7 linked regions of the Homo sapiens genome follow. The protein of the gene in region 7 interacts with the protein of the main gene of each other region in a biochemical or structural test. Each region holds a gene or a part of one and is shown on either strand. Other genes may lie near its edges. The genes, in order: MAGI3, PDLIM1, DLG3, ERBIN, FRMPD2, LIN7A and SLC26A3.

Region 1 (4,110 bases), on a different chromosome or scaffold from region 7:
AAGGAATACCTGTAGTAAGGGTTTTGCCTTTTTCACTTTTCTGCCAGTGTTTAAAACTCTTTAGGTAGGTCTTAGTATGAATTTTGGTGAAAATGAGACTAACTGGCTGCATAGTGTGCTATTCGAAAAAGTAGTGGAGCTGCATTTTAGAAAGGATTTGGGTTCTCAAGTCATCACAAAAAGAGGGAAATCAAATATAAGCAAAACTGTCTTTTCAAAAAGCCCTTAAATTGTGCATAAAATACTATATTGTACTGTTTGTAGGATGAGTCCAAATGCCACTTTTCCACCCATGTTGGAACCAATTGCAGTTTTTTGGTCGAATACCAGAAGAAGTAATTTGCTTGCATTAAAAAGATATGTTTTACAAAAAAACTTTTAATTCTAAGAAATTATCCTCATCTAGGTATGTACAGTGAATTTATGGAAATTAAATGTGTACATGAAGTGAAAGAATGATTTCTTTTCTTTTTTTCTTTTTAATATCTTGGTAGGATCCACGCCATCTGCCCTTGTTTTCTGACTTGAGTGGTTGAGGAATGAATTGTGAATAATTTTGAACTTGTTTGGGTTTTGAAAGATGACAGATTTTGGTTGAGTGGAATTAGGATCTTTCCAGTAGTAGGTAAGAAGCAGAGGAGGAGAAAAACACAGGGCAAAAACGTTCCATACAGAAAGGTTTACAGTGTGGTCCATCTCAATAATTTTGTGTGTGTTTGTGTACAAGGGCACAAAATCCACATTATAGAATAATTGGAAATTATTTTGTACAAGGGCACAAAATCCACATTATAGAATAATTGGAAAATAGAGGGAAGATCATATTAATTGTTTAAATGTATAGGTAGTTCCATTATGAATAGTCTCCTGTAAGTTTTTTTTAAATGTGTTATCTCCTCGAAATAATGCTCTAAGGTGCTTAATGCTATTTCTGCCTTCAGCCTCATTCCACTCATAATGTTATACTATGAATATTTTTATTTAACCCTTAATGTACCATTAGTTCTGTTCTTTATGGTTAATAGCCCTATTTTTGTTGTTTTGGAAGTCTAGCCAGTTTTATGGGAAAACACAATTTGCTAGCCTAGGAAAAAGGGAATTGAAAAATATATTTTCATCTTAATCCCGCCTTCCCTTTTGTTACAGCCACAGCCGACTGGCTTCCAGTGAGAAGGGTGGCATCATTATATCTCCATTCTTCCCTGAACCCTAGCAATTTATCCTGATGCAGCCACTCAGCTGCATTGCAGTGGTTTCCAGGAGCAACCCACTTACCTGCAGCCCCCACCCATTTCAGTCATCCCAACATGGCCAGGGGAACATAGATTACATTTTGAGGACCATAATTTGACTTATGACATATCTAAATACCTGAGAAAGGACACGCTGTCCTTATAGGTGATTAGGTACTTGTTTTATTAACACATACTGAGAGATATTGTTTTAGAGACTCTGTATGGGTTATGAAGGGTTAAACTTTTTTGCCATAATTTGTTTGGAGTTTAGGGTTTGGTTTTAAAAAATATCATGCAGTGGTAATTGGAAAAAATTTTGTTTCAAATTTATTAATAATTAAGATCTTTTCTATTTGGAGGCTTCCCTTTTTATTGTCTTGGGTATACAATGTGAACGGTAACCGATCTACTTAATTAAAACTTTCTGGCATTTTAGCCTCTTTGCTTTTGCTGGTTTTTTTGCACATAATTTGAAACACGTAATTATTATTTTCTGGCTTCAGGGGAGTTTGTGAGAGGCAAGCCTGTATCTCGTTGTTCTGATTGGGAATTACACATGACTATGAAAAATGGGATTTTACTATACATAATGGCATTTAACAGAAGTAGTTTTATGAAAGGAAAATATCCTACAAGGTAGGAAAAAAACAAGTATTTATTAATGCTTCATTTTCTGAACTTAAATAGAATTAAGCTAAATTGGCTTTGCTTTTTCCTCCAATAAAATAACTTTTAAAAATTCACTTTAATGGAGTAGTTCCAGAGATATATTACTCTTTGGATATGGTTATCTAGTTTGCAGCAAGTATCTTGTGATATATAGCTTAGATCTCAGCAGGAAAGAAAAAAATCTTAATTTACATATCAGTTTCTGTATTTGTAAGAATTCTGTAGCAAGTGACAGAAACGCTGTTGAGATTAATGTAGGCTAAGAAGAAATTTATTGACTTACATACATTAAAATCCAGGCATAGATCAGTAACAGCTAACTTCTGTTCTCAAGTGTTGGTCATTAGAATTATTATTTGGTTCTCTTTTCTTCTGGGTTGGATTTTTTCTCAGCTAGACTGTCAGTGTAGCGGTGAAGGTAGCTCTGAACCCCGAAGTCATACAGGGTCCTTAAAGCTTCTCATCTTTTTGGAGTCTAATAACAAATCTCATGCAGGGACTTTGGCCCTGTGCCCATCTCTTGGACCAATTATTGTAGAGAGAGGAGAGGACAATGAAGTGCCATGATTGGTCAGGCGTGGGGACATGTCTACCCTTGCAGCTGGGTATAAATAGCATAATATGATTAATAACTGTAGCAGAACCCCAAGACGTAAGGGAGGGGGAGTTCCTGAAAGGGTGGGATGCCGAGGAATCAATACTACAGGAAATGATCTCTTTTAAAACATTTAATCTCTCTTACTTGGAGGCCAGAAGTAGTACACAGTTGTCATAAAACTATCATTTTTAGAAAAACAGATATTGGCTGTAAACCAAAACTGATTTGATTTCTAGGCACTGCTTTTACTCAAATATTTAAATAAAAAATTGCTTTTATTTAAAAGTTATTTCTTTAAAAAATTGAAATACTGATACCTTAATGTGCACAATTTAAAAGTATTTCTTGTAATTTTTATTTAATTTTCTTTAAAAAAATTAAATAAGATTCTCTAAAATCAATGCTGTTGATTTTTAGGGAGATGGAATACTTTGGAAGATTAACAGTCTTTGGCATTGAGAAAAATATTATTAGCCTAGTTAAACAATTACGTTTTTAAAACAATTTTATTCTACCATTTTGAAAATGAAATTCTAAACGAATTACTTTCCAAGGTGTTTTGCTTTTAAAACAATGGTCTTTTTAAACACAAATTGAGACAATGTCATTATTGTAGTATTTCTGAGGGCTCCCTAATAATACTTTTTAACCATGATTTCGTGGAAATTATGTGAAAGGAACTACTTCACTGACTCTTATATAAAATGGGTATATAAGAGTTTTGAAACATTACTTAAGTATGGTGTCATGTGGTAACTGTTTAATTACCAAAAATGTTATTTGGCAGATATTGCAGGATAAAATCTGATCCCCTTTTTAAAGTTTTTTATAGCCTCCACTGGGAGAACAGAGGTACTCAGAGCAGGGGTAGACAGTTGAAAGAGAGGGGTGGGTGCTCCAAATAACATTTCATACTATTTTTATATTCTATTACTGTATCAATGTCTTCAGCTTTGGTGCCATAAAAATAATAATTTTAGTAATAACTTTGAGTTTATATATGCCATGCACAGTAGGAGTTTTGTAGTTTTGCCAAGTGTCATCTGGTAGTTGGATCTTTAGTGAATATTAAATGTTGGTAGATTATTGGTGAATGCACTTACTGTACATAAAAATGAACATTCATGGAATTGGGTGTGATTTGCCAGTAAGAATCATCATAGCAAGTACTTTGTATTGTTAGATTAGTTTGGGCACCCTTCGGATGACTTTAGACCATATTTGGAAAATTACTGCTTCTACTTCAAAAGCCTGTAATAATTAGAGTTCTCCAATATTAATTCCATATATTGATTAATTAAGCCATGAAATCTAGTAAAATGATATAGTCTTTATTACCTCTGTTCACAGAATTGTATCTCAATCCAACTTGGTAGCTTTCAGCAGAACACTTTGTCAAAATATTATTAATTTTAGCTAAGAATTCTATTCACTAATTTCAGTGTTTAAGTTAGAATGCACATGCTAGTGAAAATTTTAATTTCCTTTGAATAGAATTAGATTTGCTAACTAGAGCAATCTCACAATGTAATGCTGATGACTGAAATGACACTTCAGCCTCCCTTGGGTGACAACCCTAAGTTTAGACAACCTTACTCTAATAGGAAT
Region 2 (4,110 bases), on a different chromosome or scaffold from region 7:
AATGTGAAAAGCCCATTGCATAAGAGAGCCCGACCTCATTGAGCTGGTTCTCAGCCCAATCAGTGCCTTTGCAAACTGCCCAGGTATGTAGAGATGCTGCCATTTCCTTCTTGTCATGGGCAGGCAGCCAGATGGCTTCATCAGCCAGAAAATGAGGGAATCCGTTTGGGATGCTTGAGGCATGATGCTTAGAGAAGATGCCCACCCAGGCCCTTCTGAGATCCCTCTAGGAAGGGCCAGGATCAGGGTGAGGTGAGGGAGGCACTGCTTTGAGGGCAGAATTTTTTTTTTTTTTTTGAGACCTCTGTCGCCTAGGTTTGGAGTGCAGTGGCGTGATCTCGTCTCACTGCAACCTCCGCCTCCCGGGTTCAAGCCATTCTCCTGCCTCAGCCTCCCAAGTAGCTGGGACTACAGGCACGTCCCACAATGCCCGGCTAGTTTCTGTATTGTTAGTAGAGATGGGGTTTCACCATGTTGGCCAGGCTGGTCTCGAACTCCTGACCTCAAGTGATCTGCCCGCCTTGGTCTTCCAAAGTGCTGGGGATTACAGGCATGAGCCACTGCGCCCGGCCTTGAGTGCAGAATTTAAGGGGGCACTGGAAAACTCAATAATCATGAAAAAAAATGACATTTAAATGCAATATTAAAAAAATTAATACAGGTAAAATATATGGTGAACAAAGTTGGAACTTTGGCCTCCTCCCAAAGGAAGGGAGGAAGGCTTGGGAAGGGCAAGAAGTTGCCCTAGGCTCGGGGAGAACAGAAGCACCAAGGTGGTTTCTCCTTATGCACCTGCTGGTGGGGCAGAACTGAGTCTTCCCCAAGCCCATCTGTAGAGCTCACCACTTAAAACCATGGAGCCTCCTAATCTCAGCCCCATCTCATGTGCTGCCAGGTGGACATCTGTGTGCATCGGTTCCCAGCGATGAATAGTCCCAGCTCTGAGGGGGGAAGCCTAAGTCTGAGCCATGGCAGCATGATAGGGCTATTGAGAGTTCAGGCTGCATTCACATATACCCTCTTGTTGTTCCCCATAAGCCAGCCAAGTACCCCAAACCATCTCTCATATTGTATTATTCAGCAGTGGGTAATCTGTATTTATGAGGGCTACCGGATAGCTGTGGCTCTGCTGGGCTTGGCAGGGCTGGACCAGGCCCCGAGTCCTCTCATTCAAGCCCAGGGAAGGGAGAGGCACTCTGGTGCTTGCTGTTTTCATGGCAGAGGCAATACCTCTGTGGGAACAGGGCCAAACCACACAAGTGCCCTTAGTGCTTTTGCCTGTATAAGGCTCACATCTGCTCACGTTGGCTAAAGTCAGGATGGGGAAGTCTACTCCATCGAGAGCAGGGTTTCTCAGCCTTGGTGCTATTGACATTTTGGGCCATATGAGTCCTTGTTGTGGGGCTGCCCTGTGTATTTTGGGATGTTCAGCAGCATCCCTGACCTCTGCCCACTAGACGCCAGTGGCATCCCCTTTCACTGTGACAATCGAAACTGCTCTCTAGGAGACAAAACTGCCCCCAGTAGGGAACCACTGACTGGAGGTAAGCATGGCAAGAGAGGGGCGGGGTAATTGTGGTCAAAATACAGTCAACCATGTATTCTAAATGCCCCTTGTTGCCAGGCACAGTGGCTACTGGAGAAGCTCTGGTGGGAGGATCGCTGGAGGGCAGGACTTTGAGACACAACATAGCGAGATGCTATCTCTAATCAGTAAAAATAAACAATTAATAAATGTCCATTGTGTGAACATGTGTCTCAATTTTTGGTTCGGAAGGATTGGTCAGCATACAGGGACTCACTTTCTGAAAGAACAAGAGAGCTAAGGCCCTTGTCTGTCAGCCCCGCGATTGCCCGACGTGACTGCAGTCATGGGGTGACCCTCTCTTCATCCCCTCACCTGGCACAGGAAGCTGTTTCTTTGCTCTTGTCCAGTGGTTCTTGGATCAGTGGCGCCTGGGAACTTGTTGGAAATGCAGTCTTAGGCCCCATCCTGGGCCTTCTGGCTCAGAAACTCTGGGGGTGGGGCCCAGCAATCTGTGTGTTAACAAGGCCTCCAGGTGATTTTTACCATTATTAATAGCTACCATGGTACAGGGCTTTGTTACCTAAGATGTGATGAGTGGGGCCTTAGGCAGCTCAGCATCTAGCTACTAGGGGCTTATTTTACACGCACCAGGCTGACTACAGAAAGGCTCCTTCCTCTGCTCTGTAGGAGATGATTGTTATCTGCCTGCTGTAGCATGCTGTATTCTGATGGTTTTGTTCTATCTGTGATGTGGATTTCTTTTCTAAGAACTTTATTTATTTTTAAATTTCCAACATTTAAGTTCAGGGGTACATGTGTAGGATGCACAGGTTTGTTACATAGGTAATGACGTGCCATGGTGGTTTGCTGCACAGATCATCCCATCACCTAGATATTAAGCCCAGCATCCATCAGCCATTCTTCCAGATGTTCTCCTTCCCCCACTCCCCACCATCTGACAGGCCCTAGTGTGTCTTGTCCCTCCACCATGTGTCCATCTGTTCTCATCATTCAGCTCCCACTTACAAGTGAGAATATGTGGTATTTGGTTTTGTGTTCCTGCATTAGTTTGCTGAGGGTAATGGCTTCCAGTTCCATCCATGTCCCTGCAAAGGACAAGATCTCGTTCCTTTTTATGGCTGCATAGTATTCCCTGGTGTATACGTACCACATTTTCTTTATCCAGTCTATCATTGATGGGAATTTAGGTTGATTCCATGTCTTTGCTATCATGAATAGTGAGTGCTGTGATGAACGTAAGAGTGCATGTATTTTCATGATAGAATGATTTATATTCCTTTGGGTATACATCCAGTAATGGGATTGCTGGGCTGAATGGTATTTGTGCTTCTAGGTCTTTGAGGACTCACCACACTGTCTTCCACAATGTTTGAACTAATTTACATCCCAACAGTGTGAAAGCGTTCTTTTTTCTCCACAACCTTGCCAGCATCTGTTGTTTTTTTACTTTTTAATAATAGCCATTCAGACTGGCGTGAGTCGGTATCTCATTGTGGTTTTGATTTGTATTTCTCTAATGATCAGTGATGTCGAGCTTTTTTTCATGTTTGTTGGCCGCATGTATGTCTTTTGAAAACTGTCTGTTCATGTTCTTTGCCCACTTTTTAATGGGGTTATTTTTTTCTTTTATTGAGATGGAGTCTCGCTCTGTTGCCCAGGCTGGAGTGCAGTGGCACAATCTCAGCCCATTGCAACCTCCGCCTCCTGGGTTCAAGTGATTCTCTTGCCTCAGCCTCCTGAGTAGCTGGAACTATAGGTGCATGCCACCACACCTGGCTAATTTTTGTAATTTTAGTAGAGAGGGGGTTTGGCTATGTTGGCCAGGCTATTCTCAAATTCCTGACCTCAGGTGATCCACCCACCTCGGCCTCCCAAAGTGTTGGGATTACAGAAGTGAGCTACTGTGCCCGGCTTATTTTTTTCTTGTAAATTTGTTTTAAGTTCCTTGCAGATGCTGGATATTAGACCTTTGTCAGATGGATAGATTGCAAAAATTTTCTCGCATTCTGTGGGTTGTCTCTTCATTTTGATGATAGTTTCTTTTGCTGTGCAGAAGCTCTTTAGTTTAATTAGATCCCATTTGTCAATTTTTGCTTTTGTTACAATTGCTTTTCGGGTTTTCATCATGAAATCTTTGCCCATGCCCATGTCCTGAATGGTATTGCCTAGATTTTCTTGTAGTGTTTTTATAGTTTTGGGCTTTACATTTAAGTCTTTAATCCATCTTGAGCTGATTTTTATATATGGTGTAAAGAAGGGATCCAGTTTCAATTTTCTGCATATGGCTAGCCAGGTCTCCCAGCACCATTTATTAAATAGGGAATCCTTTCTTCATTGCTTGTTTTTGTCAGGTTTGTCAAAGATCAGATGGTTGTGGGTGTGTGGTCTCGTTTCTGGGTTCTCTGTTCTCTGTTCTTCTACCAGTACCATGTCGTTTTGATTACTGTAGCCTTGTAATATAGTTTGAATTTGGGTGGCATGATGCTTCCAGCTTTATTGTTTTTGCTTAGGATTGTCTTGGCTTTTTGGGCTTTTCTTTGGCCAGGTGTTAATCTCCTATT
Region 3 (4,110 bases), on a different chromosome or scaffold from region 7:
AGTACAATGGCACAATCTTGGCTCATTGCAACCTCTGCCGCCTGGGCTCAAGCGATTCTCCTGCCTCAGCCTCCCAAGTGGCTGGGATTACAGGCGCCCACCACCCCGCCCAGATAATTTTTATATTTTTAGTAGAGACGGGGTTTTGCTATGTTGGCCAGGCAGGTCTCGAACTCCTGACCTCAAATGATCTGCCCGCCTCGGCCTCCCAAAGTGCTGGGATTACAGGCGTGAGCCACCCCACCCAGCCGGAAGTAAACTGTTACATCAATTTTAGTTGAAGCTCAGATATTTAAAAAATTACAAACAGTTGGATTCCCGGCATCTAGAAAACATGTTTACGTCAACTCTACTTTATACACTTCAGCTTGTTACTGCTGTTGCCAAAGGTCAAGCATGGTTCTGGGAAGTGCTAAAATGTATCTTGTGTTTTAAACTTACAACCAGTAAACTCCGCCCTCTAATCTTCTACAAATTCATCCTAACTCCCCTAATTCATTTTATTTTATTTATTTATTATTTATTTTTTAGACAGAGTCTCGCTCTGTCACCCAGGCTGGAGTGCAGTGGCGCAATCTCGGCTCACTGCAACCTCTGCCTCCCAGGTTGAAGCAATTCTCCTGCCTCAGCCTCCCGAGTAGCTGAAATTACAGGTGCCCGCTACCATGCCCGGCCAATTTTTGTATTTTTAGCAGAGACGGGGTTTTGCCATGTTGGCCAGGCTGGTCTCGAACTCCTGACCTCAAGTGATCTGCCTGCCTCAGCCTCCCAAATTGTTAGGATTACAGACGTGAGCCACCGCGCCCGGCCTCCTAAATTCATTTTAACATCTTCCTTCCTTCTCTCACCAAACTAATTTGTGCTTAATTCAAGTTCTGTTCTTTTCCTTACTATATTTGTTCTAATCTTTGAAACCCATAATGACATCCAGTGTTTCTCATTGTCACTGAGAATGAGGTTGCTTCATGATGCTCTTCTTAGTAGGAGTGGCTGACAGAATGTCTTCCTTGCTTTAGGAAATGCAGGACTCAGGCAGTGAGAATGCATTCAGTTTTGATTCTGTCACACATAGCCCGGAATGCACCTCTCGGACAGCACCTCCTTGTCTGCTGCCTCTGCCATTCTCCTTACTGCTTTGAGTGTGTAAATTGAGGGGAAAAAAGGGCTTTTTGTTAGAGTTTGGGTATTTTCATTTTCAAATCATCTGACGCTGATTTTTAAGAACTCTGTTTCAAGAGCTGTAAGCAGTAGGTGAGTATTTCACTCTTCATGGTTTTACTACATCCTATCTCATTTGGGCTTGCATATGGTAAGATAGTGTGTTTTACTTGCAGCTTCCAACTGAGCCAAAGGCCACAGTATTGCAGGTAGAAGTCAAAGTCTTGGAACTAGATTTTGGGCTGTGTGTGCAAAGGTGTGAAAACACCTTATTAACAGAGAATATGAAGAAGACAGCCTAGATTGCAGGTAGAAAAATACAAACTTCTCACTGAAATCACCCATTTGTGGTGACTCCATATGAAGACAGGTTCCACTGGATGTGAAAAGTAGAAACTTTTTTTTTGGCTTTTTTTTTTTGAGACAGAGTCTTGCTCTGTCGCTTAGGCTGGGGTGCAGTGTCGTAATCTTGGCTCACTGTAACCTCCACCTCTCAAGTTCAAGTGATTCTCCTGCCTCAGCCTCCCGAGTAGCTGGGACTGCAGGCATGCAACATCACACCCAGCTAATTTTTGTAGTTTTAGTAGAGATGGGGTTTCACCATATTGGCCAGGCTGCTCTTGAACTCCTGACCTCAGGTGATCCACCCGCCTCAGCCTCCCAAAGTGCTGGGATTACAGGCGTGAGCCTCTGCGCCCGACCTCCTAAGGCTCTTTTGATGTGTCACTCCTCTCAGATTTCCAGGGGCCACTAGATCTTGTCTATTCAAGGGCTTCCAAAATTTGCTTCAGACCTTTATTTCCAATACCATTTCCTAGGACTTCTAGCATCAGCCAAGCTGGTGTCCTTTTCCATAAGCCTGGATTGTATAGCTCCCTCCCCACCTTCTCCCACCTTCCCTTTTATTTCTTTACTCTGCATCATTTATAGCATGTCACAACAGCATGTCTTGTCAGAAGACCTGGGTTTTGTCCCAGGTTGGTTAGATGTATGACCTAGGTCAAACTATTTTTTCCTCCCTGAACCTCTGTTTCCCCATATGTAAGAGAAAGAGACCGCACTAGGTGACTTCTATGGTCCCATTGGTCTTTTCAACCCTACCATTCTGTGCTTTTTCTTTGGCTGCCCGAGGACATAGGGCCCTTTCTTTAGTGCTTCAGGAGTGTTTACCAGTCATTGTTTGGGATTGTAGTTAACATTTTTTGTCCTCTCTTTAGCTACTTTTTGAAGATATGTTTGTGAACTGAGAAAGCGCCCTGCTAGAGCTAGTTTCCTAGGATGTGGGTGAGGGAGAGGGCTATTGAGCGAGTTCTACTTTGGACTTTTATCTTGCATCCAGAAGCCAAGAGGAGATGGGGTTTGTAAAATATTTTCTCTTATGCTTCTTATTGGGAGAATGAGATGTTTCTTTGAAAGCGGGTGCATATTTACCACTTTGGCTCAGAAAGAAGGATGTGGTCTCCTGGAGACATCCTTCTAGTATACTGTGAGGCTGCTATGTCTGTGCTGTTTGGGTTGGCCTTCCATCTTTTCAAGGTGCCAGTGTCTTGGCATTTAGGGTTGGATGATCACTTCATCTTTCACTGTGCCTTTCAGGGCCCTGTTTGATTATGATCGGACTCGGGACAGCTGCCTGCCAAGCCAGGGGCTCAGCTTCTCTTATGGTGACATTCTGCATGTCATTAATGCCTCTGATGATGAGTGGTGGCAGGCAAGGCTGGTGACCCCACACGGAGAAAGTGAGCAGATCGGTGTGATCCCCAGTAAGAAGAGGTGAGTCGTCATGATCATGAGCAAGGCCTTTCCTGCCCTCTTGCTGGTATTTCTTTCTTGTTTTCCTATTAGAAGTTGCTTGAGAGCAACGTTTGTGCCTTGATTCCTTTTTGGTAGAGTCGGTACTCAACATGGTTTTTACTCAGTGAGCCAAAAAAATGGCTGCTGTGCCTGCTGCAACCCACTGCTGAGACCATTTACTGGCAGTAACAGGACTTCTTTCTGATTCCAAAACAGGGTGGAAAAGAAAGAAAGAGCTCGATTGAAAACTGTGAAGTTCCATGCCAGGACGGGGATGATTGAGTCTAACAGGGTAAGTGGGGATCCCCAAGGAAATCAGCCAGTAGGTAAAGAGGGTTGAGAAGCCTGGAGTTTAGTCTGATGTGTAGGAGAACTGGGGAACACAAAAGAAAATCTCTTTTTCAGGGGGCTGGCTCTGTCCTATCAGAACATTGACTGCTTTTCAGAAAGCAGAGAGGGAGCTCTTAAAGTTCACAGCCAGTCTGTGCTCCTTTCCCCTGGGTACCGGCTCTTGAAGATGTGTTAGAGTTGGACTGTCTGGAAGGCTGACTTGCTTGGGGAAAATGAAACCACTCGTGGGTGTCTCCCTGGCTATAGATCCTGTCAGAGCATCCGGCCAAGAAGCCCAGCTCCAGAGCTCCCACCTCCCTTCAGACCACCTGAGGCAGGCGGGTTCTCCATTCACCCCTTTTTTTCTATGAGCTTCACAGGCCAAAGAACTTCTGGAGCAGTAGAGGGAAGAGAGACGTGGAGTAGATGTGTATATCAGTGGTACCTTAGGGCATGTGTCCAGGAGGCTACAGTGACCTTTGTTCTTTAGGAAGTACCAGTGAGTGTTATGAGTGTCTGGATTATGTAGAAACTTCTAACATCCCTACAACATTTTCTTGTAAACATAATTTTCCTCTTACATCAACTTTCATTTAATCTCATAGACTCCATTTGTGAGAGATGGTCTTTTATTTAGCTCACCGTTGTCTCCATTTTAGTTTTTCTTGCATGCTTTAAAATCCATTGTTCTGTTTTTTTTTTTCTTCTGTCCTTCCCCTCCATCTTCATGTTCTTTCACAGTCGATCAAAACGAAACGTAAAAAGAGTTTCCGCCTCTCTCGAAAGTTTCCATTTTACAAGAGCAAAGAAAACATGGCCCAGGAGAGC
Region 4 (4,110 bases), on a different chromosome or scaffold from region 7:
ATGGAACTTTCATTAATTAAATTTTTTTTCTTGTCTGTTCGTATTGGATTCTGGGAGAGTGTTGAAGCTTGATCTTTAAGCCCACTTACTTGATTTTCATTTGTTTTCAGTTATTTTGTTACTTGTTTTTGGAACAGAGTTTCTAAGAATTCTAGTTTTTCATAGGAGTTATTTTTGTTTTTATTTTTTTGAGACAGGATCTCACTGTGTTGCCCAGGCTGGAGTGCAGTGGCATACTCACGGCTCACTGCAGCCTCGGACTCCTGGGCTCAAGCTATCCTGTCACCTCACCTTCAGCCGAGACTATAGGCATGCACCACCATGCCCGGCTAATGTTTTATTTTTTTTTGTAGAGATGGGTTCTTGCTCTGTTGTTCAGGCTGGTCTTGAACTCCTGGCCTCAAGCAGTCCTCCCTCCTTGGTCTCCCAAAGTGCTGGGATTATGGCATGAGCCGCTGCACCTGGCCCAATTTTGGTTTTCTAGCCCTATTTTTGGTCTGCATGTAACCTTTAATCTCTGAGATGTTCTTTTAACATTGTCTTTTGTTTATTCTACTAACACTACAGAAAATTTGATCTTACTGTGCTTTTGGTGTATGTCATGCTTTTTGTTTTTTCTTCAAATACTAGATTTTCATGGTAGTCAAAGTTTTATATGATGACCTAGTCTCTACTGTATTGGTCATTTAAATATATGTTCCCAGCCCAATGAATCCTTCTTCTGGCTTTGGTGATTGCTTAGAAGAGGAAAGGGAGAAATATTTAACGAGTTTCTCTTTGAAGGTATGTGGGTAGCTTGACCTTTTGGTACAGGTGCTTACTGTTCCTCAGGAGGCAGTCTCCTTTTTTCATAATCACACTGTCCAAGTGTCACATCTCCTACATACATAGAGCTGTACTAGAGGCTTTAGCTACACAGTGTTTTACTATGGTTTTGCTCTCTGGCTGACCGCTCAGGATATGCTTCTCTTAATCCTTCTTGCTAAGAAAACTCATCTTTTTTGGAGATCCCACTTTCTTCTTGTTTTGGGTGTCTGGTTCCTCAAGTGTATTGCATTTTGTTATTTCCCCGACCCCAGCCTACTTTGTATTCTTTATAAATTCCGTTCTGTTCTTATCTGTAGGTATACCCCTCCCAGGTTTTCAGCACTGCTATAGATATTTTTAAATTAAATTTTAATTTTTGAAACAATGACTGACATATGGAAAAGTTTGAACATTTTTTTTCCTGAACCATTTGACTAAGTTGCTAACATGATGCCCTGTCGTCATCCCTAAATATATATTTTTTTTTATTTGAGAGCTCTGTCGCCCAGGCTGGAGTGCAGTGGCGTGATCTTGGCTCACTGCAAGCTCCACCTCCTGGATTCACGCCAGTTCTCCTGCCTCAGCCTCCCAAGTAGCTGAGACTATAGACGCCCGCCACCACGCCTGGCTAATTTTTTGTATTTTTAGTAGAGATGGGGTTTCACCGTGTTAGCCAGGGTGGTCTTGATCTCCTGATGTCATGATTTGCCTGCCTTGGCCTCCCAAAGTGCTGGGACTACAGGCGTGAGCCACCGCGCCCAGCCCGTCACCCCTAAATATTTTAATGTTTATTTCCTACAAACAAGGATATTCTCCTGCATATAATGACATCATTACCATCAAAATCAGAAAGTAAACATGAATATATTACTAACATCTGAACCTCAATTATCCCAATAATGTGTTTTACAGCAAACTATTCCAGTTTGGAATCATGTGTTACATTTTGTTGTCATCTCTTTATTCTCCTTCAATCTGGAATAATTTCTTTCTCTTTTTTTTCAAGGCCTTGACACTTTTGAAGATCTGAAGATGACAGGCCTAGTTATTCTGTAGAATACCCCTCAATTTTCATTTGTGTGATATTTTTCATGATTAGATCTTTGATTAGATTTTTATGATTAGATCTTTGGCAGGGTTATTGTAAAAGTGATGCTGCATTCTTCTTATTACGTCTTATCAGGTGGCAGGCAATTTCAGTGTGTCCTATTATGGTATTCACTTTATGTGATTAAAGTTGTGGCTGCCAGACTTGCCCTTTTTAAGGTATTCATTCCCTGTTTGTAATTAACTAATATTTTGCGGTAGGTGCTTTGAAACTATGTAAATATTTTGTTTTGTTTGTCATATTTTAAATTCACTTATTTACATGTACCTAGGTTTATCTTCGCAAGGACATAATGCATTACTATTTATTTTGGTGCTCAAATTGTTCTTGATTGGCCAGTGAGAACCCCCTGGCTTATTTTCTTTTTTGTTTTTGATACCTCTTCCTTTTTTGAGTACTCCTTGTTTTTTAGCACAATTAGATGTTCTAACATATCTTCTACTTTTCCTGGTTGTTTTTAGTGGAAAATGATACTTAGAAGCCAAGATCTGGGGCTTGTGTACATTGTTGTTTTTAGGGTATTGTTACTCTCAGGCCCTCTTCATATACAAAGCTAGGAAATATTTTTATGTACTTACACATATTTACATCTATTTTTATTTATATATCTATAAATATATACAATGGTCCCTGATTTATACTTCTTTGACTTTACCAGGGGTTTTATTGGGGTACTAAGTGCATTTTCAACCTGTGATATTTTTGGCTTAAATGATGGGTTTATCCAGATGTAAACCCATTGTAAATCGAGGAGCATCTGCATATTTCTATAATGCAATTCTAATCCAGCACCACCAGGTTCACTCTAAGTTGTTTTTTTTCCCCTTTCCATACTTGTAACTTATCTCTAACAGTGAGAAATAGTTTTGTTTCCATATGTTATGTGTGTGAGGAAGTTAAGGTAAACATTTGTTCAAACATTTTTGAGCCAGAAGTGTCTGCAGTCCAATTAATTTCTGAAGTATTTCTAAAGAGATAAAATTCCAAACTGTAAAAAGGCAAGTTTTAATTCCGTGATAAAGTACATTTATGTGAAATATTTCATTCCTTAGTAATTCTTGAGGCGACTGTGAAAGGAGGATGGAAGAAATCCAGTACTTTTACTCTTTACATTGGACAAGTTATTTGTGGAGATAATTGCTCAATTTCAGTATGAGTGCAGTGATTTTGATGCAGTTGTGTTTTTCTTTTTTATTCTTTTTTGGAGAAGGGTCTCGCTCTGTCGCCCAGGCTGTAGTGCAGTGGCATGATCACTGCTCACTGCAGCTTTGAACTCATGGCCTCAATCAATCCTTTCACCTCAGCATCCTGAGTAGCTGAGACTACAGGCATATGCCACCACGCCCAGCTAATTTTTCTATTTTTTATAGAGGTAGAGGTCTTACTATGTTGCCAGGATTGGTCTCCAGCTCCTGGGCTTGAGTGATCCTTCCACCTCGAACCTCCCAAAGTACTGGGATTACAGGTGTGAGCCACTGCACCCAGCTGTGGTTTTCATATATTCAGGTTATATTGTTTGCATGATCCTGAAGTCTTGAAGCACCTAATAATGGTGTTCTTGGAATTTCACACCTTAGGTCACTCTAGACTCTTTGTGGGAGCATGGAGGGAGGTCTGATGGAGGGGGGGTGGGGAGAGGAGGGTATGTTTGTAGTAGGACCAGTGCAAGAAACTAGTGATCTAAAAATGAATCTTGTTGCCAAGGTTATCACACAACCTAGAATAAGTTGGTTTGACTTTCCTCTTCCTTATAGATTTTGGAAGTGATTTAAGAGGCATATCCTTTGAGACTAGAATAAATCTCTCAGTCTTCTAGGAAAAGATAAGGATCTTGGCAGCATCAAATGGATCCTTTGGGTGCCCTATTAATCCCTGGGGACTTCAGAAGATTTAGTTTATTGTCTTGATGCTGACTGCAAAATAGCAGGGACTGTATATAGTAGATGCTTTTTGATTTGTCGTGGATACCTGGTATCAACAGAGGGTCCTGTCTGCTCTTTTAAAAGCCATTCCCAAGCCAGGGACCCTAGGAGTCATCTTTATTTTCCTGACCTTAGTAATTGAAATTTCTGTCGATTCTGTCTTACAAATGTCTACAGAGTGAGACACTTTAGGGTAGGATAGGAAGGCTGGATAAGGTGAAGGGCTTTTGATAGGCAGAGGGTAAAAACAATTACCTTAATCTGTTTTTTCCC
Region 5 (4,110 bases), on a different chromosome or scaffold from region 7:
TCTGAATGTAGCTTATCTCTGTGCAGAACTGACCCCGGGGCTGTGGCAACATCTCCCTTGACTCATTATTCTGCTAGGCTCTAGTACATTATTTACTAGCATGAGGCATATTCCGTCAGGGCCAGTTGAATGCCTGCATGAATGCTTCTTGTTCACAGCATGGTATGATCAGGCGGCACCCAACACAACATGTACAATGATCAAGCAGGTCAGTGACCCTGTGCAGCTCTCGAGCATGTGGTAGGTGGGGTGTGGAGGGTGCCTGGCCTGCCTGAAGGCCTCCAGCTGAAAACAGGAGCAAATGACAAAACATCAGTATCCACTAAGAGTGCTGGTGTTTGACACTTACTATCTCATTTCAGTTCCCTTAGAAGCCTGGGAAGTAGGAATGTTATTCTTATTTTATGGTTGAAAAAATGGAGGTTTACAGGATCACGTATCTTGCACATAGTAGGAGGCTCATATGAAGCCAGAGTTACCTCAGTGTCCCCTCTGAGACATAAAGATCCTACAGCCATTTTTCCCAGTGTCCTCCTAATAACTAGATCAGCCCTCGATGGGGTCCCTCTGAGGAGCTGCTGGATGACTGGACACAAGGCTGCCCTCCCCGGGCCATCATCCATACTCAGAAATGCCAAGAAGTTGCCTCCCTGAGCCACCTTATCTAACCTCACTGTCCTTCCCCGTGGGCCACCTTATCTAACCTCATTTTCTTTTCCCGGCAGCCCCTGCACTGGCCGGGAGCAGCTGAAGAGTGCCTGTGTGATCCAGAAGCCAATGACCTGGGACTCTCTCTCTGGACCACCTGTTCAGAGCATGCATGCAGGTATGGGCCAGGCCACGACCAGGTCTTGGGTGGAGGAACCCCTACGCAGGAAGCTTGCTTTGAGTCTTTTACCACCACTTATTTTTGCTTCCCACACAATGTTTGTAACCTTCTTGTTTTTTGAATTGTTTTCTTTTTAAACTACTTGTGATTGGGAAGAGGCGTTTAGCTTTGGCTGGGTATGAGGATCTGAAATGTGTCAGCTCTGGCGAAGACAATCCCAGCACTCTTGTCCAGAAGGAAGAATACCTGCTATGGAGGGTGTGTTCAGAAAAAGGCACCATTCACTGTAGATATGCTTCTTTATGCAGGCCAGAACATCACCTCCCAGTATTCACCAGAAAACATACACAGAGTAGATGGCAGTCCCTTCAGCCATGCATCCTCCTGGCCAGTTCCCTGTTGAATGTGAGGACAAAGAGATCCGACACTTGGAAAAATATCTCTACTCAGTGAGCATTAAGCCTGAGGGTTGGATCAGTGTATTAGTGCGTTTTCACGCTGCTGATAAAGACATACCCAAGACTGGGAAGAAAAAGAGGTTTAATTGGACTTACAGTTCCACATGGCTGGGGAGGCCTCAGAATCACGGTGGGAGGTGAAAGGCACTTCTTACATGATGGCAGCAAGAGAAAAATGAGGAAGAAACAAAAGCGGAAACCCCGGATAAACCCATCAGATCTCGTGAGACTTATTCACTATCACGAGAATAGCATGGGAAAGACCAGCCCCCGTGATTCAGTTACTTCCCCCTGGGTCCCTCCCACAGCATGCAGGAATTCTGGGAGATACAATTCAAGTTGAGATTTGGGTGGGGACACAGCCAAACCATATCAATCAGGAAAACTGCCAGGCAACTCTTTACAAGTAACTTGTCTGCCAATTTCTGCCAAGGTCCCTGGGGGAGGGAGAGACATGGAAGGACTGAAGTGGTGGGTCACCATTTGGGGATTTTCCCAAGTACACTGTGGCACACACTGAAGTGCCCCACTCCAGGACTCCAGCTCTCCAGGAACAGCTTCAGGGCTCTGCCTGGGGCTCCTCCATGATCCAAGCCAGGGGAAGACCACAGGTCACACAGGCTGGGCTGCTGGCACCTTGTCACCCCTGGTTATTTGAGGCCTGGGATGGGAAGGCTTTACTGTCTCACCTCTGTTTTAGCTTTTGTTTTTGTTTTGACTCTCAGCAATTATTAATACATCTCTGCTCATCCTCTGTCTTGTCCCAAAACCAATGCGGAAAAAAATAGCTACAGTAAGTCATACAGAAAACAAGCACCATAGCCCATCCTGTTCTTGCCTCTGCTCTTTAAGCTGGAACTTGAGCAACACTGAGTGACACTCCAGAGAGGCTCATGTGAGTGTGTGTTCAGGTGTCCATTCCCAGCACTGCTGGGAGATTAAATATGAGCTACTTTTGTTTTCAGGATTGTGTGCGTGTGAATGTGTGTGCGCGCATGTGTGTGAAATGCTGTTTACTCCTTTTGTATTAGCTCCCAAATAATTTGGGGGAAAAGCACAATGTGGTGCTCTGATTCTACCTCTAGGCTCAAAGAATAATAGGAGGAAGAGCTTTATAGCTGAACCGGGCCGAGAAATTGTACGTGTGACACTGAAACGTGACCCACATCGTGGTTTTGGTAAGAGGGCTCCCTGTAGGTGAGGCCCAGTCTCTACTGCTGGGCAAAGTGGGGAGGTGGGTACTGTTTTCCCTTTCAACTTGCCTACTCCCCTTTCCTATCCCTCCTCTCCCAGTCTGCCTTTTCTGGTAATCACTTCTGTTTTTTTTCTCCCTTTAATTGTTCCTAAAGAGCAATGGGACTTTTGTTTCCAAGTTTTTCTTTTTGGGGTGCATCTAAGTACAATGCAGAAAAAGATTTTTTCCCCTAATACCATGTAACAACATTCCTCTAGTCAGCTATGGGGAAGAAGAGTCAATTTATCTCACCTCTTACTAGTGACCACTTTCTAAGACCCGAAAAACTGTAGAAGAAACAAGGTACGGAGACAAGGTACTTGATTAAAAATCATTTCTTTCCTATGTCTCATTATCTACTGGAGCAAAATCCAGTGCATATTGGTGGTTTGTATTCCTAGCTTTAGCTGTGCTTACTAATGGGGAACAATCCACCTTTCTCCAAGTATCATGGTAAAGTAGAAAAGATCCTCTATTTGAGGATCAGAAGACCTGACTGTAACTATCAGCTAATGCCACTTGGTAGCTGTGTGATATGAGGGAAATAACCTAACCTCTCTGAACAGCAAAATCACTAAGTATCATCTTATCATGGACTATCATCTTGGATTACAGGGTTTGTCATTAATGAGGGAGAGTATTCAGGCCAAGCTGACCCTGGCATTTTTATATCTTCTATTATACCTGGAGGACCAGCAGAAAAAGCAAAAACGATCAAACCAGGTACATCTTTTTAAATTACTAGAGATGCTGTTTTAAGAAACCACTCTTTTTTATTTCCTTGAAGGATTATTGAGATGTTTTATTTTTCTAGGAGGGCAGATACTAGCCCTGAATCACATCAGTCTGGAGGGCTTCACATTCAACATGGCTGTTAGGATGATCCAGAATTCCCCTGACAACATAGAATTAATTATTTCTCAGTCAAAAGGTATGTTTTAACCCACTCTTGGGAGCTTAAGAGGCTCCCCTGTTTTCAGGAGTACATGATTACTGTGAGGTACTAGACCTTGAAGTCCACGTAGGTCTTCTATATTGCTTTCCTCATGGTGTTGGCTTGCAAAGAAGCAGTGTAGTGGCACAAATTAATAAGCTTTGCAATTTCAGGGGCAGAATGGGCGTTACCATGCTTGTCTTGCTGAAAGGGAGTAACCTACTCTAATTTTGTTAGACACGGCTGGATACAACCAGTCTTTTTTTTTCTGTCAACTCTCCTTGCATGGCAGGGAGGACCTTTTTATTGCCACCCAAAGTCCTTGTTGATAGGGTCGGCTCCAGGATTTCTATATTTTGTATAGAATCCTATACAAAATTTCTATATTTTGTATAGGTATAGCAATCAGCTGGGGAGGAGACAAGCACTGTTCTTTGTTAATCTTTTGTTTTGGGTTTAGGGCTACATGTGTAGGTTTGTTATTACAGGCAAACTCGTGTCACAGGGGTTGCTATACAGACCATTTCATCACCTAGGTGCTCAGCATAGTGCCCAATAGTTATTTTTCCTGATCCTCTCTCTCCTCCCATCCTCCTCCCTCAAGTAGGCTCTGGTGTGTGTTGTTCCCCTCTTTGTGATCATGGGTTCTCATTAT
Region 6 (4,110 bases), on a different chromosome or scaffold from region 7:
ATTCCACTAAGTCTTCATATATTATAATCATAAGGAAGATTAAAATGATATTTCACTGTGGACTAATGAATTTATTGGTTTCAAAATTGTTGTATTGTATATTTGCAGCCCTCACTTGTTTAATGGTAGCCACTGTATAAAACCTAGATTCCTTTATTCAAAATATAAAGAAATTCTCATAACACCTGCAAGTTTTTGTTCACACTGATACTGCCAAAATAGTAATGATCTGATGCTGTTTTAATATAAGAAAGTCTGATACGGTTGAAAGAGGAAAGATTTTGAAGGGAGATAGAGATGAGTTGCTGTATCAAATCTGCAACAAATTAGCTGTGTGGTCATCGGTATGTTCCCACCTCTGTGACTCAGTGTCTTTGTGTGTAGAGTGCCCAAATAAGAAGTTAGGAGAATTAACCGAGCTCATGGATATAAAATGGTTAGCATTACATTTGGCCCATGGTGATTTCTCATTAAATATATACCAGAATTATGGTAATTTACTCCAACAAATATTTATTGAATGTTTTACAAGAGCCTTTACTCAGTGCTATCCAAGTCTGTTTTTACAGCTTACCAATCATTGCACGTACGAAGAAAAGGTATAGCTTAATTCCTTAGATCAGGATTTCTCAATCTCAGCCCTATTGACATTTTGGCAGATAATTCTTTGTTCTGTGAGGCTTCACTGTGCATTGTAGGAATTTAGCAGCATCCTTGGCCACCACATGCTAGATGCAGTAGCATCCCATTTATGACAACCAAAAATGCCTCCAGACATTGCCAAATGTCTCCTGAAGGGCAACATTGTCCCCAGTTGAGAACTACAGCCCTTGATCAATTCTATGTAAACAGTGTTCACGAACTGCTCATCTTAGGAGATTTTCCCCAAAAGATCCATGGTCAAATAAGATGAGAAACATCAAATGCCAGCAACAGCATAACAATGATAGCTAACTTTTGGAAACATACTAAACATGGCAAATTGTTCTTATCTTATTTAATCCTCATAACAGACCTAGAAGTTACTTACTATTTTAAGGCACATTTTTAAAATGAGGAAATTGAGGATCAGAGAAATCAAGTGACTGACAAACATCATACAATTAAATGGTACAGCTACGGTTTGCTTCCAAGCCATCTTCAGAGTCTGTGAAATTATCTACTACACAGTATTGCTCCTTGAATATACCACTTTCTAATTCAAAATCAATTTGGGGTCTTAAGGCTAATTATTCTTAATTTGTGATATTTATTAGGTACAGGTATTTATCTCCAGCACTTACAAAATCACCTTTTGTTTTATTCAATTGATGACAATATTCCAATTATTTGCTAAATGATTGTCTTCATAAACATCCTTGGATGCAGGCAAAGTCACTTTCCCTGGCAATGTTAACCAAAATAACTTCAAACAAATTCAGATGACCAGGAACTGTGGAGAGACTCACTCTGCTTGAGGGAGGCAGAAAACATTTAATAGAGGAGACAATATTTGAATTTGACCTTTTATCATCATATTAAATTTGGATGAATAAGAGTCTGCCAGGTGGAAGGGCATTCCTAGCAGAGTAAACGGCATGTGCAGAGACCTAGGTAACTTGGAGAGTTCAATATGTTTGAGGAATGGTGGGGGTGGAGAAAAGAAAACAGGAAAATAAAACTAGAGAGAAGGCTGAGTTCTGCATTATTATCTGTGGCTTGACTCCTGTAGGTATTTGCCCTTATCACCTTTGCAGTAAGGGCAGCAGACAGCCAAGAGCACAGCAGGGACATGGTCAGGTAGGTACTTGATGATCACCAAAGTGTATATGGTTTGATGGCAGGGAGACCCAATTAAGTCACTAATGCAATGCTTGCAGCAAGAGATAATGAGCTAGGGTGGAATGAAGGGTCAGATTTGAGAGAGTTTATTACAAGAGAAGCAGGGCAGGGAAAATCCTCCTCTGAAATGGGCTATTAGAGCAAATAGTATAATTTATTTTTGGAAAGGCTGTCTCTATGAAACAAAATAATGCATTTCCAAGGAAATAATCTGGAAGTACGTTTAGCAGCTGTTCAGGTAACCTGGAGAATTTGCAGTAACATATCTCAGATTCCATAAATGATCTTCTGGAAACTTGTTCCTGTCTCCATTCAGATTTCCCATAGAAATTGAACACCTCATAATTGTTAAGTGGAGATTCAGAGCTAAAAGTTAGATTCTGAATTGCACTGTTGCCTTTTTAGTACAGACTACTTTGTCAATTTCCTTCTAACCATGTCACCTGGGAAAGATGAGTCAGCGTTAGTGGAGATTCAACCAAATGTATTTGAGAAATTATGAGCCAGTCAAAAATGCAGGGAAGAGATTAGTCCCAGACACTCAACAAATAGTTGTTGAATGGGTGAATTAATCAAATGTTGGATTCACTTATTTAATTTTTGAGTTAAGCATGTAAAATAAGATTAATATAAAGGAAGAAAAAAACCTTTCAACCTTCGATTGCAGTTTTTCCCTTTCCTTTTTTACTGAAATAGCTAATGGATCACTCCCCAAAAATACTCTAGCCTAGTACCAAATGGACTTTTATTGCTATGCATTATGCAATAAATTTTTACGTATACTATTTAAATCCAAAATGAACATATAGTCCAACACATTTAACCTTGTTACTTTTTTCCAAACATCTTCCTCAAGGCATCCTTTAAGTTTTTTTTTTTCTGTACTTTAGTTTAAGCAATTTATTTTACCATAGATACAAAGATTTTATAATCCCATCCCTGGAAGTTTATAAGAAACAATTTTTTTCTACTACATTTTAATGATTTCTGTAATTGTATCTAAAATCACAATGAGTAATAATATCTGCTGTTTAAGGAGTGCTATCAGGTACATTCCCAAACATCAGACCTATGTTATTTTGCAATAGAGAATTTTTTTCCTACAGTGAAAATATAATTTTCTTTCTGCAATAAAAGAATTATTATTCTTCATGTTCTTACACATTCTTCTTTTTATGTGAACATTTTAGGTGTATCAATATATGCATGAAACGATAACTGTTAATGGCTGTCCCGAATTCCGTGCGAGGGCAACAGCAAAGGTAAGGCTTGAGTAACTTTAAAAATATACTTGACCCCAGTTATCTAGTAATTGATTGTGCGCGTGTGTGTTTCAGGTATTCTCGTGTGTACACTGTAAGAGAATTTAGACATCAGTGGCAGCCCAGAGTCTAGAACCAGTACTACTTCTCAGGTAAAAATCCTAATGGAAAATTGAACGTTTCTGCTGCTTCTGTAGCTTAAGAAAGGAGAATGATTTCATTAAACTCACTTAATGTCCATTTGGCACAAGCAAATCTACTGGTTCATTGTGTGAAATACTATATGATTTTCAGACACATTCTTCTGATCTGAAAGAACCTGTATCATATTCAGTGCATGAAGATTTATTTGCACCGGTCTAAAGATTTGATTTCAAATAGACAGGAAAAGAATTCACCTGACACCCACTGATCTAGGATACTTCTGTGTATTCAGCTGAGCAGTGGGTAACTTGCTGAAAGGATGTGGCATAGACCTTATAGAAAACGCCTGTCACCTTTTGTGGTAGTGACCACATCTGCCCTTTAAAGACTCAAATCCAGAGACTGTAGAGACCCTACTAATGGAAATGTTATACCGATAACATCAGGAAATTATCAGGAAAATAGGCCATTAGGAAATACCAATTTTAAACTAAAATCACTGATGCAGCTCTTCTTTTACAAACACACAAATGTTATAATAGAAACATGACTTGCTTTTAAAAATACTTTATTTTTCTAATAATGTATAAGAAATAACCATTGAAAATGAGTAGAATTTTCCATTTAATTATTTTGTGTTACATCAACGCTTGTTTAGTTTCTCTCTTGATTTTTTAGTTTTTACTCTGTAACTGAACACTGTAGATTTGTAAGGTTTTTTTGTTTTGTTTTGTTTTGTTTAAACTCAGGGAAAAAAAGAGGGTGTTATTATCATCATGTCATGCTTTGCTTGTACTGAAGTGGAACACACACAGAAAAATGATCCCTACGTGGTTTAATTAAGGGGAAAGTGAATTGTGTAGTGTTTTACCATTCTCATTTC
Region 7 (4,110 bases):
CAGAAACATAAACAAATAATGTATGACATGGAATAGACATATATACAAGGTACTTACAAGAAGGAAATGATCAACTCTATCTAGGGATTCCATGAAGGCTTTACATCATTTTCTTATCTTCTACAACTGTGTTAGGAACTGAGTTCCTGACAAATAATAGGCTGATACATGTTTGTTGAAGGAATGAAGAAATGAATCAATGGTCAGCTGAGTTGTGTTTTGTTTGTTTGTTTGTTTTAGAGACAGGGTTTCTTTATATTGGCCAGGCTGGTCTTGAACTCCTGGCCTCAAGCAATCTCCCCACTTCAGTCTCCCAACGTGCCAAAATTACAGGCATGAGCCACTGCACCCAGCTGTGCTGAGTATTTTTAAGAATGAATTGGAATCTACCAGGTATTGGAGAAGAAGAACACAAAGGAAATCATGTGTACAGAGATACGGAACTGTTAAATATCATAGCGTGTTAGGAACCTGCTGCAATTGTGAAGGAGGAGTGAAGAAGCTTGTGAGATAGACCAGAGCCAAAACATGAAGGACCTTGTATGTCATTCTAGGAAGCTCGGATAGCTAGATTATTTTAAAACTATGTTAAAACAAACTGGGATAAAAATGGAAAACTGCTACTTCTAAAGATAAGCTCAGAGTAAACATAAAGTCATAGAAAAGTTGGCAGCACTAACATTTTCCAACAGGTTCCAGCTGACTTTTGTGGACCAGTTGTAAATTCCACCAACAGTCAATATTTAACTCACTTCTGAGACTGCTACCTATGAACTTAAGGCTAAGAAGTCTCCCTTTGTATACCCTGCTTTCAGTTTTAAGAACAGCCCTAGAAGGAAAATAATGGTCTCCTCCTTTTGCTTTAAGGAAATTGAAGCCTTGGGCCGGGTGCTCACGCCTGTAATCCCAGCATTTTGGGAGGCCAAGGCAGGCAGACCACTTGAGGCCAGGAGTTCGAGACCAGCCTGGCCAACATGGCGAAACTCCATCTCTACTAAAAATATAAAAACTTAGCTGGGCATGGTAACGGGTGCCTGTAGTCCCAGCTACTCGGGAGGCTGAAGCAAGAGAATCACTTGAACCCAGAAGGTGGAGTTTGCAGTGAAATGAAATCGCGCCACTGCACTCCAGCCTCCACCCTGGGCGACAGAGCAAGACTCTGTCTCAAAAAAAGAAAAGAAAAGAAAAGAAAATTGATGGCTTGAATCACTGGCTTATAGCAAACATAGTTAAGATATGGCAAGGCAAGGATTTGAAACCTGGTGTGCTTAGTTGCCAAAGTCTCACTCTTTTCTGTTGTACCTCCCGATTAATTTAGGTTTGACTTCCTTCTTCAGCATCTTCGGCAATGTAGTAATAGAATTGATGAAAAATAGTAGTAACAATTATTGCCCACCTCAGCCTTTGACCCCTTCTGAGCTCTCTTAATCAACCTCAGTGCTGAGACCCCTCCCCTCCATTCACCACTCCAGCCCTCTCCCATTCTGATGCCATCATCTCCCTGCTTCTATCCAGCCTCACGCTAACCAGAATGTGGAGCTTTTTGTGAGCTTGATTTCTGATTCCTCTGGCTGCCGATGGAGATCCCTCTGAAGGTGCTCACTGGAGCAATTATTCTGCTTGTTCCCCCATCTCTCACCCACTCCCCCAAGTATAGTTATCAGGACGCTGCTGTATTTCCCATTGTCCAAGGACTAATTCATGAAATAGGGCTGGCTTACCTCTGGTTTTGCACTGACTGGCTCAGAGATATTTTGAGATCCATGAGGTGAGTTGTGTTTTCAGCAGATTTCAGGCACAGTGTGGCATTTTCAGTGATGTCTCTATCGAAGGCCTTCCTCAGCTTGAACAGCTATGAAGGGGTGATGCTGCTAGGAGCTGCCTTGTCCAAGAGTGGAGGCATCTAATGTGACTGCGGAGGGGCTGGGAAGTGTTCTGCACCCTTGCTTGTCTGCTGGTTTCAAATGACCGCTAATTAAAGACAAATCCTAGCACCGCTCATCAGCATCTTGGTTCAAATTAGTTGTTTCCCAGCAAAAAGGGCAGACCTCTGAAAGACTAAAACACAGAATAGATAAACACTGAGTGGAAAGGTCAGGGCCAAAAGACACTTCTCAGCAGAGCGGGGCAGGCAGAGTGGAGGTTCTCGTAACTGGAGGCCAGTCTGCAGGTTGGAAATGGGTGGAACTTGAAGTGGTGGGGAGGTATGTACATGACAATCCCTAGAAATATCAAAAAGTTATTAATACATGGGAATAGTTAAACTGAGAAACTGAACTTCAGAAATTAATCCCAGGATTAAATTTCTGCTCAAAAAGAAAAAAAAAAAGCAGAGAACAACAACGTGTATGACTAAGCCACAGCACCAAGATATGTAGGTATATGAATGTCTTCATGTGTGTGTCTATGTATGTAATATATATATCATAAAGGCCAAAAAAATAATAAAAAGCACGTCGTAGGGAAGCAAATAAAAGTGGAAATATATACAAACAAGGCTTGGGATTCTATAATTAGTAAGAGGAAGGGACTCTGTGAATGAATTTCAATCCCCAAATCCACTGACACCCTAAGGAACTCAGAGATCCATGAAGATAGAACATGAAAAGGCTTTTACATTAATATGGGCGTAATATTTGAAATTGGAATTGTGATTCCAGGAACCAGAAAAAAGTGTTTTCCAAGAATTTCTGGCAAAAATGTAACTTGTTCAGGTGAAAAAAGAGTTTAAACAATCTCTTTTTAATTCCTAATTAAAGATGAGCCGAGATCTCGCCACTACACTCCAGCCTGGGCGACAGAGCAAGACTCCGTCTCAAAAAAAAAAGGTCCTGCTCAAGAATCTCAGAAATGATGACATGGAGAATGTCATTAATTTATGACTATCTGGAACATCTCTTCAGCAGAGGCACCATTGGGGTAGTTGATTCAGAGGCCCACATTGTATGTTACACATGGAGGCATAGCTTTTGGAAGCGGGGATGGGTGCAAGGGGAAAACAGAAAGGCTGGAATGTGGCCCTCAAGATTTCTCTCTAAAGTCTGGAAAGATTTCTTTTCTTTTCTTTATTTTTTGAGACGGAGTCTCGCTCTGTCACCCAGGCTGGAGTGCAGGGGCATGATCTCAGCTCACTGCAACCTCTGCCTCCCGGGTTCAAGCAATTCTCCTGTCTCAGCCTCCCGAGTAACTCAGATTACAGGTGCCCGCCACCACGCCTGGCTAATTTTTGTATTTTTAGTAGAGACAAGTTTTCACTGTGTTGGCCAGGTTGGTCTTGAACCCCTGACCTCAAGTGATCCTCCTGCTTCAGCCTCCCAAAGTGCTGGGATTACAGGCGTAAGCCACCGCGCCTGGCCGGAAAGATTTCTTAAGCTCCCCTGATTCCTACCCTGAGCAGGGCCCTTGCAGGCAGTGCTTGGGTATGAGGAGGAGGCTTTTACTGGCAGGACAGCCAGAGTTCAGGCTCTTGATCCAGCTGGAGGTATAAGAAAGCCCACTAAAGAGACAGCCATAGCCATCCTCAGAGAAGGAAACTGATTAGAAATGAAGTTATATTTCTCCCATCACTGTCATCGGCAAAAAAAATTAAAATAAAAAAAATACAACAGCCAGAAGAATAAAAGTACCTTCAAGATCTTTTTTGGGGAAGACAACTAATAAATTTCTGTGAACTCCTTGAGGAAAGCATGAGTAAAGCAAGCAAAGAGCAGAATCTTTTTTTTTTTTCCTGGCCATAGCAGCATCTGACAGAAGTACAAATGCACAGTGCTGAAGTCTTCTTCATCCTAAGGTTGGCTAGGTTGGTTCCTTCAAAGGATTAAAGCTGTTCTTATAAGATATTCCAGATACCCTTTGTGAGAAATCCAAGATGTCAGAAGTGATTGACCATGGATTAGATCTTAATTATTATTGCCCCAACCATGTTGTTGGTAATCAGCCAAAAAAAGACAAAAATCCATGCTCTGCACAGCAATGCACAAGTCACCTCCACTTTGTGAGCAAGTTCTTCTGACAATGGGAAGTACTGTCTAGTTAGTGGGATTTGACCCCTGAAGTGTGGGTGGAGAGATGGAAGAGGGAATGGAAACAAAAGAGAAAACAAGCACTTGG

What was found.
Region 1: the proteins of SLC26A3 (region 7) and MAGI3 interact in a test that uses a peptide from one of them, tested with the Homo sapiens proteins (one large-scale study listed by IntAct).
Region 2: the proteins of SLC26A3 (region 7) and PDLIM1 interact in a test that uses a peptide from one of them, tested with the Homo sapiens proteins (one large-scale study listed by IntAct).
Region 3: the proteins of SLC26A3 (region 7) and DLG3 interact in a test that uses a peptide from one of them, tested with the Homo sapiens proteins (one large-scale study listed by IntAct).
Region 4: the proteins of SLC26A3 (region 7) and ERBIN interact in a test that uses a peptide from one of them, tested with the Homo sapiens proteins (one large-scale study listed by IntAct).
Region 5: the proteins of SLC26A3 (region 7) and FRMPD2 interact in a test that uses a peptide from one of them, tested with the Homo sapiens proteins (one large-scale study listed by IntAct).
Region 6: the proteins of SLC26A3 (region 7) and LIN7A interact in a test that uses a peptide from one of them, tested with the Homo sapiens proteins (one large-scale study listed by IntAct).

What each region holds. Positions count from the first base shown.
Region 1 is NC_000001.11:113,396,829-113,400,938, forward strand, and holds part of MAGI3 (membrane-associated guanylate kinase, WW and PDZ domain-containing protein 3), read left to right. Parts: intron 1-4,110.
Region 2 is NC_000010.11:95,238,866-95,242,975, reverse strand, and holds part of PDLIM1 (PDZ and LIM domain protein 1), read left to right. Parts: intron 1-4,110. UniProt on the Homo sapiens protein: Cytoskeletal protein that may act as an adapter that brings other proteins (like kinases) to the cytoskeleton. Involved in assembly, disassembly and directioning of stress fibers in fibroblasts.
Region 3 is NC_000023.11:70,489,353-70,493,462, forward strand, and holds part of DLG3 (disks large homolog 3), read left to right. Parts: intron 1-2,754; coding exon 2,755-2,931; intron 2,932-3,168; coding exon 3,169-3,244; intron 3,245-4,023; coding exon of another isoform or gene 4,024-4,110. UniProt on the Homo sapiens protein: Required for learning most likely through its role in synaptic plasticity following NMDA receptor signaling.
Region 4 is NC_000005.10:65,932,625-65,936,734, forward strand, and holds part of ERBIN (erbin), read left to right. Parts: intron 1-4,110. UniProt on the Homo sapiens protein: Acts as an adapter for the receptor ERBB2, in epithelia. By binding the unphosphorylated 'Tyr-1248' of receptor ERBB2, it may contribute to stabilize this unphosphorylated state.
Region 5 is NC_000010.11:48,183,908-48,188,017, reverse strand, and holds part of FRMPD2 (FERM and PDZ domain-containing protein 2), read left to right. Parts: intron 1-725; coding exon 726-826; intron 827-2,372; coding exon 2,373-2,465; intron 2,466-3,136; coding exon 3,137-3,244; intron 3,245-3,335; coding exon 3,336-3,452; intron 3,453-4,110.
Region 6 is NC_000012.12:80,847,224-80,851,333, reverse strand, and holds part of LIN7A (protein lin-7 homolog A), read left to right. Parts: intron 1-3,011; coding exon 3,012-3,083; intron 3,084-3,158; exon of another isoform or gene 3,159-3,235; intron 3,236-4,110. UniProt on the Homo sapiens protein: Plays a role in establishing and maintaining the asymmetric distribution of channels and receptors at the plasma membrane of polarized cells.
Region 7 is NC_000007.14:107,796,458-107,800,567, reverse strand, and holds part of SLC26A3 (chloride anion exchanger), read left to right. Parts: intron 1-4,110. UniProt on the Homo sapiens protein: Mediates chloride-bicarbonate exchange with a chloride bicarbonate stoichiometry of 2:1 in the intestinal epithelia. Plays a role in the chloride and bicarbonate homeostasis during sperm epididymal maturation and capacitation.